4 linked regions of the Homo sapiens genome follow. The protein of the gene in region 2 purifies or fractionates together with the protein of the main gene of each other region. This does not show direct contact. Each region holds a gene or a part of one and is shown on either strand. Other genes may lie near its edges.

Region 1 (2,968 bases), on a different chromosome or scaffold from region 2:
ATGGGTTTACACTGTGTGCTTAATTAAAAGATAAATAATTGAAATAATCAGGCAGTTTCACTGGCTGTTGTACCCAGTGGGTGTATGCCTAAGATTGGGACAATATAAGAAGTATAAACTGTTGTTCCAGTATCTGTTCTCATATGCCTCTCAAAAGTAAACATCTCACCAGGCTTGAGTGCGTTTCTCCTGTTGAAGATAACTTTTCATAGCTTCATACCTCAAACACAAGCCAGCCACTCCCACTGACACTCATTCCAATGATGGAAGAAAAGCCAGCTGTGTTGGACTTGAGGGGTGGTGTATTAATCTCTAACATAGTGCTTTTCTAATGAACGATGAAGGATAATTTTGACTGGACTGAGTTTCACAATATATTATACACTGACTTCAGAACCTAACTCTCCCCCCCACACCCCCGCCAAGAAGAAGTCTTGCTGTGTCGCCCAGGCTGGAATGCAGTGGCGTGATCTTGGCTCACTGCAACCTCCGCCTCCCAGGTTCAAGTGATTCTCCTGCCTCAGTCTCCCAAGTAGCTGGGATTACAGGCATGTGCCACCACACCCAGCTCATTTTTGTATTTTCTGTAGAGACAGGGTTTCACCATGTCCAGGCTGGTCTTGAACTCCTGACCTCGTGATCCACACCCCTTGGCCTCCCAAAGTGCTGGGATTACAGGCGTGAGCCACCGCGTCCAGCCCTGAACCTCACTCTTTATATGAAAGATAGGAATGCTACTATACAGTTTTGTTAAATGAATGATCTGTCCTTTTTCTGCGTTTCTGTAATACTTTATTATTCAAATGACATTTTTGCTGCTTATTTCATAGCTGTTTACTTTTGTCTTATCCCACCAGTTAAAAAAACAGGAATCATGTCTTTATACCTCTTTGTATTTGGTATATTGCTTTTTATATAATACTCGTTTATAGAATGAATAGACATTTTATTTTATTATTTATTTATTTATTTATTTAAAGACAGAGTCTCGCCCTGTTGCCCGGGCTGGAGTGCAGTGGCGTGATCTCAGCTCCCTGCAGCCTCCACTTCCTGAGCTGAAGCAGTCCTCCAGGTTCAGCCTCTCCAGTACCTAGGACTATAGGCGTGTGCCACCACGCCTGGCTAATTTTTGTGTTTTTTTTTGTAGAGACAGAGTTTCACCATGTTGCCCAAGCTGGTCTCAAACTCCTGACCTCAAGTGATCTGCCCACCTCGGGTGGGTCCCAAAGTGCTGGGATTACAGGTGTGAGCCACTGCGCCCAGCATTAGACAGCTCACTGTACAGTGATCATAAACCTCAGTACCCTTTGCTAAATGTTCCCTCTCAGTTATCACTTTTCTCTCTTTCCCACAGCTCTTTCGACGTGTAGCAGCAGCTTTGCCGGGAATGGAAAGCACACAGGACAGAAGCAGAGAAGATAGTATCCTTTTTATTTCATTGGAAATTTTTCATTATTAACACTAGTCTTTAGAGCCCTGCTTGCTTGGCTAAAGAATATTGTGCCATTGCCTTTTACAACCAGGAACTGATGACTTAAAGGCATAGAAATTCATTTGTTTTCTATAGCAAATGAGGTCTGGTTATCCAAGTGCACCCTTTGCAGCCTGCTTCTCGTTGTTAATCAGTGAGAGGTTTTGTGTTTGTTTGCTTGCTTTTAAATGAGCAGGAAACTCTTAGAATCCCTGTGTCCTTGCCTCTTCATTTTGAGTCCCATTGACTCTAGGCTTTTTCCTCATGGAATATCAAATTTTCATTTCTTTTTCTAACACTTGAGCTTTCTACTTGACACAGGCAAGAAATAGAGTGGAGCTTTATTGTAGCCTCTGCTTTCAGAAACAGGACATAATATTAGTTCATTTCCAAGGATTGGGACATCTAATATTAGTTAATTCTAAGGATTTTTAATTTGATGTTTTCAGTGTTTCATATTCACCTTCTAGTGTATTTCCATATGCAGGCATTTTTATTAAGCCATATAGTTTGTAGCACTTTGTATTCAGCTCTTCCCACTTGTAAATGTTATATGTTTTCATAAAAAACATAAAACAGGCCGGGCGCGGTGGCTTATGCCTGTAATCCCAGCACTTTGGGAGGCCAAGGCAGGTGGATCACCTGAGGTCGGGAGTTCAAGACCAGCCTGACCAACATGGAGAAACCTTGTCTCTACTAAAAATAAAAAAATTACCTGGGCGTGATAGTGCACGCCTGTAATCCCAGCTACTAAGGAGGTTGAGGCAGGAGAATTGCTTGAACCCAGGAGGCAGAGGTTGCAGTGAGCCGAGATCACGCCATTGCACTCCAGCCTGGGCAACAGGATCGAAACTCCATTCCCCCCCCAAAAAAAAAAACACAACAACAACATAAAACATAATATGTTTCAAAAACAAAACAACAACAACAACAAAAAATGTTCTATTGAGTTGAAGTATGTCCCCGCGCCCACCGCCGTTTTTTTTTGAGATGGAGTCTCATTCTGTCGCCCAGGCTGGAGTGCAGCAGCGCAATCTCAGCTCACCACAACCTCTGCCTCCTGAATTCAAGTGATTCTCCTGCCTCAGCCTCCCAAGTAGCTGGGAATACAGGCATGAGCCACCATGCCCAGCTAATTTTTATATTTTTAGTAGAGATGGGGTTTCGCCATGTTGGCCAGGCTGGTCTTGAACTCCTGACCTCAGGTGTTCGGCCTGCCTCAACCTCCCAAAGTGTTGGGATTACAGGCATGAGCCACGGCACCCGGCCTGAAGTCCCATTATTTACTAAATGTTTCCTCTGCTGTTGGAACTATCTTGTAGGCTATTTTCAGATTTATATTATAGATGATTCTATGAGGAACATCATCTTCATATCACTTCTTGCCACTGTAGAATAAGTTCCTTAGGATAGATACCCATAAATAGAGCTTGTACCTCATTCTGACCCTTGTTGCATATAGTAGATATAAACAAGTTTATTCCATTTGAGCACCTT
Region 2 (3,500 bases):
GATCATTCCTCCTTCTCTCCCTGCTCAGATACACACTCTCTCTTTCACGTGCATACACACCCCTCTTTCTCCTCATAGGCAGTAGTTCTCTGCCTAGAAGACTGAATTCCACCTGAGGTCTCTAGATGGTTTTCTGTATATTCTTCTTCCTAACCTGCCCTCTCACTTCTCCAATCTTCCCTTGCAGGTGGTCACATCAACCCAGCTGTGTCTTTAGCAATGTGTCTCTTTGGACGGATGAAATGGTTCAAATTGCCATTTTATGTGGGAGCCCAGTTCTTGGGAGCCTTTGTGGGGGCTGCAACCGTCTTTGGCATTTACTATGGTGAGTAAAGTCCCTGAGTCCTAAGGTTAGGAAGAGCTGGGCATAATTTGAAAGTCAGAATTACTTGGTAGGCACAGGCGAGAAAAAGCAAGGACGGGAAGCATTCTACAAGTGACAGCAAGTTCTAAATTTGAGAAAATGAGGCCATATTACCATTCCAGCAAATTCGTGAATCCTGTTAATGAAAATGGTCATATCTTAAATGGGGAGCAGAACTTAAAGGAAGCCTGTCTTTGTGCCAAGCCAGCACTGCAACATACACATCCATACAACAAGCAGTAGGCCAGTGGCTTCCCCACTGCTGTCTCTGATTTGGCTGGGAAAAGAGGTGTTTTCTGGTGACAAAGGTGTGACCAGTAAGTATTGAGAGAAGGACTCTGGGAAGATGTCTTTGAAGGAAGAGACACAGCAGAGATGTGGGCTGGGTGGGAGCCTCATTGCCCTTCTATCAAACAGCCAGGGCTTCCACTCTGCAACAGTCCTTGGGAAAAACACAGTATTGGTCATAGAAGACCAGACTTTAGCTCTAGCTGTTCAGTAAATACCTGTGCAACTTAAATAAGTCATCTGATCTGACTAGCCTCAGTTTCCTCCTCTGGAAAATGAGGGAATTGAATCAGATGACTCTCGAGGCCTTTCAAACTAAAACACCTTGGTGTTCCCATGAAATCAACTGTTAAAGCAGCTCCTTCCTTCTAACCCAAGGTAAGCCTTAATACATTATGACTTACCCAAACTGAAGACCTTAGGAAGTAGAATTTATGAACCAGGCCTTATAGAAATGGGTCATGGAGGGCTGGGTGTGTGGTGGCTCATGCCTGTAATCCCAACACTTTGGGAGGCATAAGTGGGAGGATCGTTTGAGCCCAGTAGTTCAAGACCAGCCTGGGCAACATAGGGATACCTCGTCTCTTCAGAAAAAAAAATTAAAAATAAGCCAGGTGTGGTAACTCACATCTGTAGTCCCAGCTACTCAGGAGGCTGATAAGAGGATTGCTTCAGCCCAGATCAAGGCTGCAGTGAGCCAGGATCATGCCATTGCACTCCAGCCTGGGCAGCAGAGCAAGACCCTGTCTCCAAAGAAGAAAAAAAAGAAAAAAAAAAAGGAAAAGAAATAGGTTATGGAAAGGGACTTTTCCCCATAGAGTGTCTCTCTGAGAATTAGAGTCTAAAAGGGCTAAAATGGAATTCAAGAACACACAGGAAATTCAGAGCCCGCTGCTGTGGCAAGAATGGCCTGGGGTCAGTGCTAGCTGTGGCAGTGGCTGCAATACCCCTGGCTCTAAGGGCATCTTCAGTATACTGCAACACCCTCAAATTCTGGAGTGGTATTAGGGGTTACTGAGAGCCCTCTGGGAATTATAAATTATTCCTAGAGCAAGACCAAGCCCCACTTTGGCTTACAGTTGACCTCGAAAACTCCAAGAATTCCCCCAAAAGAGAACTCATTCCCAGGACCCTATCGAAGAATAATTTGTCCAAGTTTGCAGTGGGCCATTCAGAGAGGCCAAAGGCCTTCTTCCTTTGACCCTCCATCCTGGGATTCACCTGGGCATCTCTAAAACTATCATTCCTCGGAAGTAGAGAGAGACAAATGACATGGCTATGCCAAGCTCAATCTGAGTGACTGGTTGTTTAGCACAAGGCTTGGCACAGGCCTCCTTCAACTCTTCCCAGGGAACACTAATGTGCCAGAGCTTTCTCTTTCATAGATGGACTTATGTCCTTTGCTGGTGGAAAACTGCTGATCGTGGGAGAAAATGCAACAGCACACATTTTTGCAACATACCCAGCTCCGTATCTATCTCTGGCGAACGCATTTGCAGATCAAGTAAGTGTAGATTCAACAAAGACTTAACTTTGGTGAAAAGATATGCTCTCATAAGGGGAATGCATTGGAGAATTAGAGACCAATCAGAAAGGAGAGATTATATTTCCAAAGGCAGAGGTTGCTGGGCATAACCCAAGCTTTCTTGATAATCGTTTTACCTTTACAAGGAGCTGATACCACCAGAAAAGTTTTCTCCTTCCTCTTTAATACGTACACTTGTTTAACATTAGTTGAGATCCAGAAAAGAGTGAATGACTAAACATTTCAATCCCTGTAGACACAAATGGACTTCACTTCACTATTGACTCTTTTGAACAAGTGGTCTAAGTGTGGAGGCCACAAGAGAAGATATTTCTATTTCAAATCAAAGACTGTGAAGGGTGGTAGTTGAGCCTAGGGGATCATCAATCCTCTCTGTCTCACCATGTGCATAGGTTTATTTATTTAAACTCTCAAGGTGGCTAGAAGTATCTCTGCTTATTGACCTTTAAACAAGCTTCTAGCACCCAAGCATACTGTGGTGTAACCAATAGCACACCTATTTGGTCAGCTTATGGCAGGACTAACATTGTCAACTCAAAAGACTCTTCTTCCCTTACTGTGTCCCAAGAAGGCTGCTGGTTATCTTGGTCAGGGCAGTGGAAGGAAGGCTATATTTTTCAGTATCTCTAAGTTCTTCCTCTATGATCAGGACTTATACAGTGGAGCAGATCAGAATGGGCATGTGTATAAAATGGATCTTCCAGTTCATCAGCTATGCCCACCTCCATTCAATGTATGGATGAAAAACTATGCCCTCATGTCCTCAGCTTTTTTACTTTCCACTTTCATCAATAAATCAAACAGGCAACAAGTGTTCATTAAAAACTCACTATGTGCTTGGCCCTTTGTCTGGAGCTTGAAAGACTGACGAGTAAATGTGAGTTGTAAAGATCCAAGATGCAGAGTCTGAATGCTTGAATTAAAATAGCTGTTCTGCCTCCAACTTCCTGCGTGGCTTCAGCAAAGTACTGAACTTTTTGGGTCGCAAGTTATTCACTTGTAAAATGGGGATAATATGAGCCTTCATGAAGTTACTTATGAGGATAAAAAGAATAATATGAGAAAAACGCATTGTAAGCAGTATCTGCCCAGAAATTTTGAATCTAGTTGAAGAGCATTGAACAAGGAAACAATGCAAAATAAGATATAATTAGACAGAGCTGGGCACGGTGGTTCACATCTTACTCCCTGCATTTTGGGAGGCCAAGGTGGACAGGTCACTTGAGCCCAGGAGTTCACTACCAGCCTGGGCAACATGGCAAAACCCTGCCTCTACCAAAAATACAAAAATTAGCCATGCGT
Region 3 (3,500 bases), on a different chromosome or scaffold from region 2:
CGTCCTAATATAGTCAACAGCTCCAAATCCCCTGCCCTGACACCTGTTAGCGAGAGGTTCCCTGAGCTGACCTCTCCTTGGGCTGCCCCCCCAGCATGTGCATCTGACGCGTCGAGGGCCAGACCCCCACCCTCTCCGAATCACACGCATCCTGGTCAGCCCCCAGTTGACAAATTGCCTTCTCTCGACTTGGGCAGGGGCTGCTGGGGTTTTGAGGGGCGGGGTTTGTTCAGCTGTTGCTAGGGAAGGGTGAGGCTGAGCTATCCCAAAGGAAATGGGGTGTTCCTCTGGCAAGTGGCAATCTTGGCAAAGAACTGAGCATCTGGGGAGGGGGCAACTCCGGACACAAAGAAGTCCTGGGGAGGGCCGACCTTTCCCCTTAGGATGGGGGAAATGAAATGCGCTTAATGCTGCTACAGCTGCTTCCTAACTTTGCCTCTTTCTTCCTTTGACTTTTGGAGGAGTGGGGTGGAAAAGAGATGGGGGTTCCCAGGCAGCCAGCTGTTTTCCCCACTGACCCATGCTCCAATTCCCACTGCCCTGGCTCAGTAGCCTCCAGTAAGTGATGCCCAGGATGGTGCGGCTCCGTGTGGCCAGCGTAATTCCCTTTGTCTCTCCCCTCCTCCCCTCTCCCTGTCTTCCTCTCTCGCCCCTTGGCTTCCCTTCCCGGCCCCGTGGTGGCTGCAGCCCAGCCCTGGGGAGCCCCTGTGGAAGTGGAGTCCTTCCTGGTCCACCCCGGTGACCTGCTGCAGCTTCGCTGTCGGCTGCGGGACGATGTGCAGAGCATCAACTGGCTGCGGGACGGGGTGCAGCTGGCGGAAAGCAACCGCACCCGCATCACAGGGGAGGAGGTGGAGGTGCAGGACTCCGTGCCCGCAGACTCCGGCCTCTATGCTTGCGTAACCAGCAGCCCCTCGGGCAGTGACACCACCTACTTCTCCGTCAATGTTTCAGGTTGGTAGCCAAGCCCTGCCCTTGCCCCTCCCTAGACCCACCCCCTCCAGCCCTCTCTGCCAGTTTCAGAGGAAGGTGAACCTCCTCCCCCTCCGTGATCTGCCCCCACTCTGCTTCAGAAACTGCTGCCCACTAACATTGCTCCCTGCCTGCCGCGTGGCTTGGCTCTCAGAGAGGTGACTAGGTGGGGTGGGCCCCAGGGCCGGAGATCTGGGGCTTCCAGGACACACCTCGGAGGTGATTGCCAGGGCTCTTGGGATGTTAAGACCCTGTGATTTTTTTCCACCACAGCTTGCCCAGATCTCCAGGAGGCTAAGTGGTGCTCGGCCAGCTTCCACTCCATCACTCCCTTGCCATTTGGACTTGGTACTCGGCTTAGTGATTAGAGGCCCTGAACAGGTGGTGGTATCCCTGCTCTGCTGGAGAGGAACCCAGGTGCACCGCAAGGGAGCTGTGCGAGGGCAGCCAGGGAGCCCTGGAGCTCTGTGAACTTGGGAACTTGCCACTCTTAGAATGTGACTTTCACAAAACTAGGAGTTGAGGAAGTGGAGCTGAAATTTTCTTTATGCCATTTATGCACCTCAGGGTGTGGACTTGGCAGCAGATCCCCAAAGGTGATAGGAAGGACTGGAGAAAGATCTGGCATGAACCCTGATGGGTGACCACATGTGTATCAAGCGTGTTCTTACAAGAAATAAATACTTATTGGGGAGAGGTGTTGGCAGCTGCTGGGGTGGTGGGTGCCCTATCTGCTCTGATTAAGGAGGGCAGCCCCCAAACCTTAGTAGACACATGCTAGAAAAATTCTGACTGTGGGGTGTTTAGCCCATCCTTTGGAAATAGCATCTAGCCACAGTGTGTCTAGACCTGCCTGGGTTTCCCTATAGTCAGCCGTCCAAAGAAGAATACAGGTTGCCTGGCTCCAGCACACCCAGGTGGCACCACAAGTTGAGAAAGCGCCTTTGAATGTAGGACGGAATTAAGTTAAATAGGAACAGCTGACCCTGATGGAACCACCCAGTGTGAAGGCTTCCAGGCAGTGGGGGCAGTGCTTCGGGGAAGGAAGCAAACACGCACAGGAACTGTTCTTAAACAGTTTCCATCCCACCAAGAGATCATCACTAAGGGAGCAGTGGGACTGGGATCCCCATGGGGAGGGTGTCCGTGTTCATCTGGAACTGCACTAGCCTTGGTGAAATCTAGGGGTCCCTAGGAGGAACCTCAGTGCCCCTTCTTCTTCCCATAGATGCTCTCCCCTCCTCGGAGGATGATGATGATGATGATGACTCCTCTTCAGAGGAGAAAGAAACAGATAACACCAAACCAAACCGTATGCGTGAGACACTGTTTCCTATCTTACTGCCCTTTGGGTCTGGGCATTGGGTTTAAGAGGGGAGGGGAAGGCTGAAAGGGGAGGAAGAGGAGGGCACATGGGGTCACGGTGCCTGTTCTGCTAAGTGCCAGGCACTGCTCACAGGTGTTGGGCAGATGGGCAAGACACCTCCAGGTCCTGGCCTGGGCCCTGCTCCTGAGCCTGACCAGCTGCTCCTCTCCACCCTGCCTGTCTCTCTTGGCTTTCCCCGGGCAGCCGTAGCTCCATATTGGACATCCCCAGAAAAGATGGAAAAGAAATTGCATGCAGTGCCGGCTGCCAAGACAGTGAAGTTCAAATGCCCTTCCAGTGGGACCCCAAACCCCACACTGCGCTGGTTGAAAAATGGCAAAGAATTCAAACCTGACCACAGAATTGGAGGCTACAAGGTACGTGTGTGTGCATGCGAAAGTTAGAGTAATGGGAACAGGGGAGGCCGAGTTAGGAAGTCCTGATTACATGCTTTTCATTTTTTTAAGTAATACTTTCCACCTATACAGGTTATTCATTAAAATTTTTAAATACAAAAAAATGCAAATAAAGTTTAAACATTTCTTCAGTCTTCTTTCTGTAATATGGTTTTTACATAGTTGATCACATCATGTATGTAATTTCCTTGCCTTGTCATTTGTTAACATGAGTCTTTTCCTGATATATTTCAAGCATGAATATTTGAAACATAATTTTTCATGACTGTATAAGATTCCATTATTTTAAAATCCCATAATTTGGCTGGGCATGGTGGCTCACGCCTAAAATCCTATCACTTTGGGAGGCCGAGGTGGGCGGATTGCCTGAGCTCAGGAGTTCGAGACCAGCCTGGGCAACATGGCGAAACCTCCTCTGTACTAAAAATACAAAAAATTAGCCATGTGTGGTGGCAGGCTCCTGTAATCCCAGCTACTGGGGAGGCTGAAGCAGGAGATTGCTTGAACCCAGGAGACAGAGGTTGCAGTGAGCTGAGATCACGTCATTTCACTCTAGCCTGGGTGACAGAGTGAGACTCTGTCTCCAAAAAACAACAGAAAAAGTCCTATAATTTAATGAACTATTTTGTGATATTAGGTATTTTCTGGTTTTTCACCATAATAAATAATGTTGCAGTGAATCTCTGTCAGCATTTTTTTAAGCGTGCTTCCTTAGGACAGATTGTTACAAGTGAAATTACTAACTT
Region 4 (3,500 bases), on a different chromosome or scaffold from region 2:
GCTAGCTTATTTAAATTCAAGAACTTTTGCAACATGGTTTATTATGTTGATTTTTTGTTGTGTATGTCTAAACTTCCAATTCATCTGTGTCTTCTAAAGTGCACCAACATTGATCAGTTAGTGTGTGAGGGCAGAGGCCTTCATCATAGTAATTTAGTGATCAATAGTGTTTCTTAATAGGATGGGGCATTTTAGAGCTTTTTTTTTTTAAATGTTAACTGTGGTTTTAATAATTAGATTTCTTCTATGTGGCTCATGGTAACTGACCATGTGTTCATATTTTCTTCTAAACTTTTTAGGCGTACAAATCCATTTGGAGAATCTGGAGGAAGTACAAAATCTGAAACTGAAGGTAAGACAGATGTGCAGCATTCATATATTTTAGAACTGCTTCTCAGCAAACTGTGAATAATTTATTGTTTATATTTGCTCTGCTACTAAGCTCAGTTTTAATGCTATCTTTACTTCAGAATTTCCTCTACTTACTTATAGTACACTTGAAGCAACAGAACTTAATCTGACTTAAGATGTTGTGATTCATACAAAACGATAGACTCTCATACTTTTGACTTTATAGTCAAATTCAGTGCCTAAGATACCTTTCAAGCTTTTCCTAACAGCTGATGTTTCTCTTCTGGTACTGGAGCATAAATTTTGTTTTTCCGCCACTAACTATTTATTTGAATTCTAAACTTACAGAAATGCTGTAAGAACCACCAGTTGTTGTGTGTTTGTGTGTGTGTGTGTGTGTTGAGACAGGGCTCCCTATGTTGCCTAGGCTGGTCTCGAACTCCTGGGCTCAAGGGATCCTCCTGCCTTAGCCTCCCAAAGTGCTAGGATTACAGGTGTGAACCACCACGCCTGGCCTCAGAACTGCCAGTTGTTGAAGCATTACTTTTAGCTATTTGAATTTGAAACCCTAATTTTCCTATAACTTGGAATACTGTAGTTAGGAGTTATTTTGAAATGTCTCCCTTAGGCTGTTGAATTTTTCACTAGAAAACCTAAAAGGAGGCAGTGTATTTTATTCTTTTGGAAAAGAAATATGGCGAAAAAAATAAAATGTAAATTTATACAGTAAAAAAAAAATATGTAATACACCTTGTTCTATTATAGATTCTATTCTTCATCAGTTATTTATTGTCCGATTCCTTGGTTCAATGGAGGTGAAATCAGATGACCATCCAGATGTTGTTTATGAAACTATGCGCCAAATCTTAGCTGCCCGGGCCATCCATAACATCTTTCGTATGACAGAATCGCATTTATTAGTCACTTGTGACTGTTTAAAGTAAGTAAAACCCTCCCTTAAAAAACTGTAGAAAAAACATTTACATGATTTCAGCCTAATTAAAATTTGTTTTCCAATTTTTAAATTATTATTTTAGGTTAATTGATCCACAGACACAAGTTACAAGGCTCACGGTGAGTTCCACATGATTTAAGCTTTGTTTTAGGTCCCTTTGTATATATACACATCTTACAACTTGATAATAATCCTGATCCTGTATATTCAAGTGTGATAGTATCAGCTATGATTGGTCTTTGGCTGTTGTAGTTAAGTCTATGGCCATCTCCAAAAAGTTGTCATTGAACATTTTATGTAACTTAAAAGAATTAACACAATTCTTTTTGTAATTTTTTTAACACAGTTCTTTTTGACTTTGTAAAATGTGTTAATGACTAATAAAACAAATGTAATATTCAACAACCTTTTTCTGCTTGTTAATTCAAACCAAATATGACATTACTTGTTTCTGCATTACAAGTCTGTTAAAATAATTGGCTTTAATATATTAAAATATTTATATTTTTAGAACTTAGCATATGAGTTTGTCACAAGTGCTGCTGTAATGACTTGTAAGATCTCATGTTTGCTTCTGATGTTTTCTGTGGCAGTTTCCATTACCTTGTGTAGTTTTGTATGCTACACACCAGGAAAATAAGCGCCTTTTTGGATTTGTTCTTCGGACATCAAGCGGGAGAAGTGAAAGTAATCTGTCATCAGTCTGCTATATATTTGAGTCAAACAATGAGGGGGAAAAGGTACATGGCTTTTCAGAATATCTCTGTCATAACCACTTACTAATTGATTCTTACTAAGATTTAATAATAATTAAATTCTTACAAATTAAATTAGTTAGTAATTACTGATTGAATTCTTTACAATTTATACAAATTTATGAGGCACATGTGAATTTTGTTACATGTATAGAATGTACAGTAAGCAAGTCAGGGTATTTAGGGTGTCCATCATCCAAGTACAATACATTTTTGTGAAGTATAGTCACCCTACTCTGCTGTCAGATATTAAATATATTCTTTCTATCGTAATTTATGGTTGTACCCTTTAATCAGCTTTTCTTCATCCTCCCCCTTTCCTCATCACTCAGCCTTCCCAGTCTCTGTTGTCTGTCATTCCACACTCTGCCTCCACGTGATCAATTTTTTGGCTCCCACATACAAGTGAGAACATGTGATATTTGTCTTTTTGTGCCTGGCTTATTTCACGTAAGATAATGACTTCTAGTTCCATCCACGTTGTTGTGAATGACATGATTTCATTCTTTTTATGGCTGAATAGTACTCCATTGTGTATATGTACCACATTTTCTTTATTCATTTATCTGTTAATGAACATTTAGATTGACTTAATATCTTTGCTATTGTGAATAGTACTACAGTAAACATGTGAGTGCAGGTATCCTTTTGATACAGATTTCTTTAATTTTGGGTAGATACCCAGTAGTGGGATTGTTGGATCGAATGGTAGTTCTATTTTTAGTTTTTGTTGTTGTTGTTGTTTTTGAGACGGAGTTTCACTCTGTCGCCCAGGCTGGAATGCAGTGGTGCGATCTTGGCTCACTGCAACCTCTGCCTCCTGGGTTCACGCCATTCTCCTGCCTCAGCCTCCCGAGTAGCTGGGATTACAGGTGCCTGCCACCATGCCCGGCTAATTTTTTGTATTTTTAGTAGAGACGGGGTTTCACCGTGTTAGCCAGGATAGTCTTGATCTCCTGACCTCGTGATCTGCCTGCCTCAGCCTCCCAAAGTGCTGGGATTACAGGCGTGAGCCACCATACCCGGTCTATTTTTAGTTTTTTGAGAGATCTCCATACTGTTTTCCATAGTGGTTGTACTAGTTTATGTTCCCACCAACAGTGTATGAGTTCCCCTTTTTTCTGCATTTCACCAACATCTGCTATTTTTTGTCTTTTTAGTGATAGCCATTCTGACTAGGGTAAGAATGGCTCATTGTCATTTTGATTTGCATTTCTCTAATGATTAGTAATGTCGAGCATCTTTTCATATACCTGTTGGCTGTTTTTGTGTCCTTTAAGAAATGCATATTCATATCCTCTGCATACTTTTAAGTGGGATTATTTGATTTTTTCCCTGTTGAGTTCGTTGTATATTCTGGATATTAGTCCCCAGTTGGATGAACAGTTTGCAAATAATTTCTCCCATTCAACAGGTTGTCTGTTTACTCTGTTATTTCT

What was found. Proteins that work in one complex are often made in the same cells at the same time.
Region 1: the proteins of AQP9 (region 2) and RAB6A purify together in Homo sapiens (affinity purification with mass spectrometry; one large-scale study listed by BioGRID and IntAct). This does not show direct contact.
Region 3: the proteins of AQP9 (region 2) and FGFR1 purify together in Homo sapiens (affinity purification with mass spectrometry; one large-scale study listed by BioGRID and IntAct). This does not show direct contact.
Region 4: the proteins of AQP9 (region 2) and APPL1 purify together in Homo sapiens (affinity purification with mass spectrometry; one large-scale study listed by BioGRID and IntAct). This does not show direct contact.

What each region holds. Positions count from the first base shown.
Region 1 is NC_000011.10:73,678,107-73,681,074, reverse strand, and holds part of RAB6A (ras-related protein Rab-6A), read left to right. Parts: intron 1-1,354; coding exon 1,355-1,421; intron 1,422-2,968. UniProt on the Homo sapiens protein: The small GTPases Rab are key regulators of intracellular membrane trafficking, from the formation of transport vesicles to their fusion with membranes.
Region 2 is NC_000015.10:58,172,881-58,176,380, forward strand, and holds part of AQP9 (aquaporin-9), read left to right. Parts: intron 1-187; coding exon 188-325; intron 326-2,037; coding exon 2,038-2,156; intron 2,157-3,500. UniProt on the Homo sapiens protein: Aquaglyceroporins form homotetrameric transmembrane channels, with each monomer independently mediating glycerol and water transport across the plasma membrane along their osmotic gradient.
Region 3 is NC_000008.11:38,427,136-38,430,635, reverse strand, and holds part of FGFR1 (fibroblast growth factor receptor 1 isoform 1 precursor), read left to right. Parts: intron 1-687; coding exon 688-954; intron 955-2,200; coding exon 2,201-2,290; intron 2,291-2,542; coding exon 2,543-2,715; intron 2,716-3,500. UniProt on the Homo sapiens protein: Tyrosine-protein kinase that acts as a cell-surface receptor for fibroblast growth factors and plays an essential role in the regulation of embryonic development, cell proliferation, differentiation and migration.
Region 4 is NC_000003.12:57,258,729-57,262,228, forward strand, and holds part of APPL1 (DCC-interacting protein 13-alpha), read left to right. Parts: intron 1-299; coding exon 300-352; intron 353-1,116; coding exon 1,117-1,291; intron 1,292-1,388; coding exon 1,389-1,425; intron 1,426-1,899; coding exon 1,900-2,046; intron 2,047-3,500. UniProt on the Homo sapiens protein: Multifunctional adapter protein that binds to various membrane receptors, nuclear factors and signaling proteins to regulate many processes, such as cell proliferation, immune response, endosomal trafficking and cell metabolism.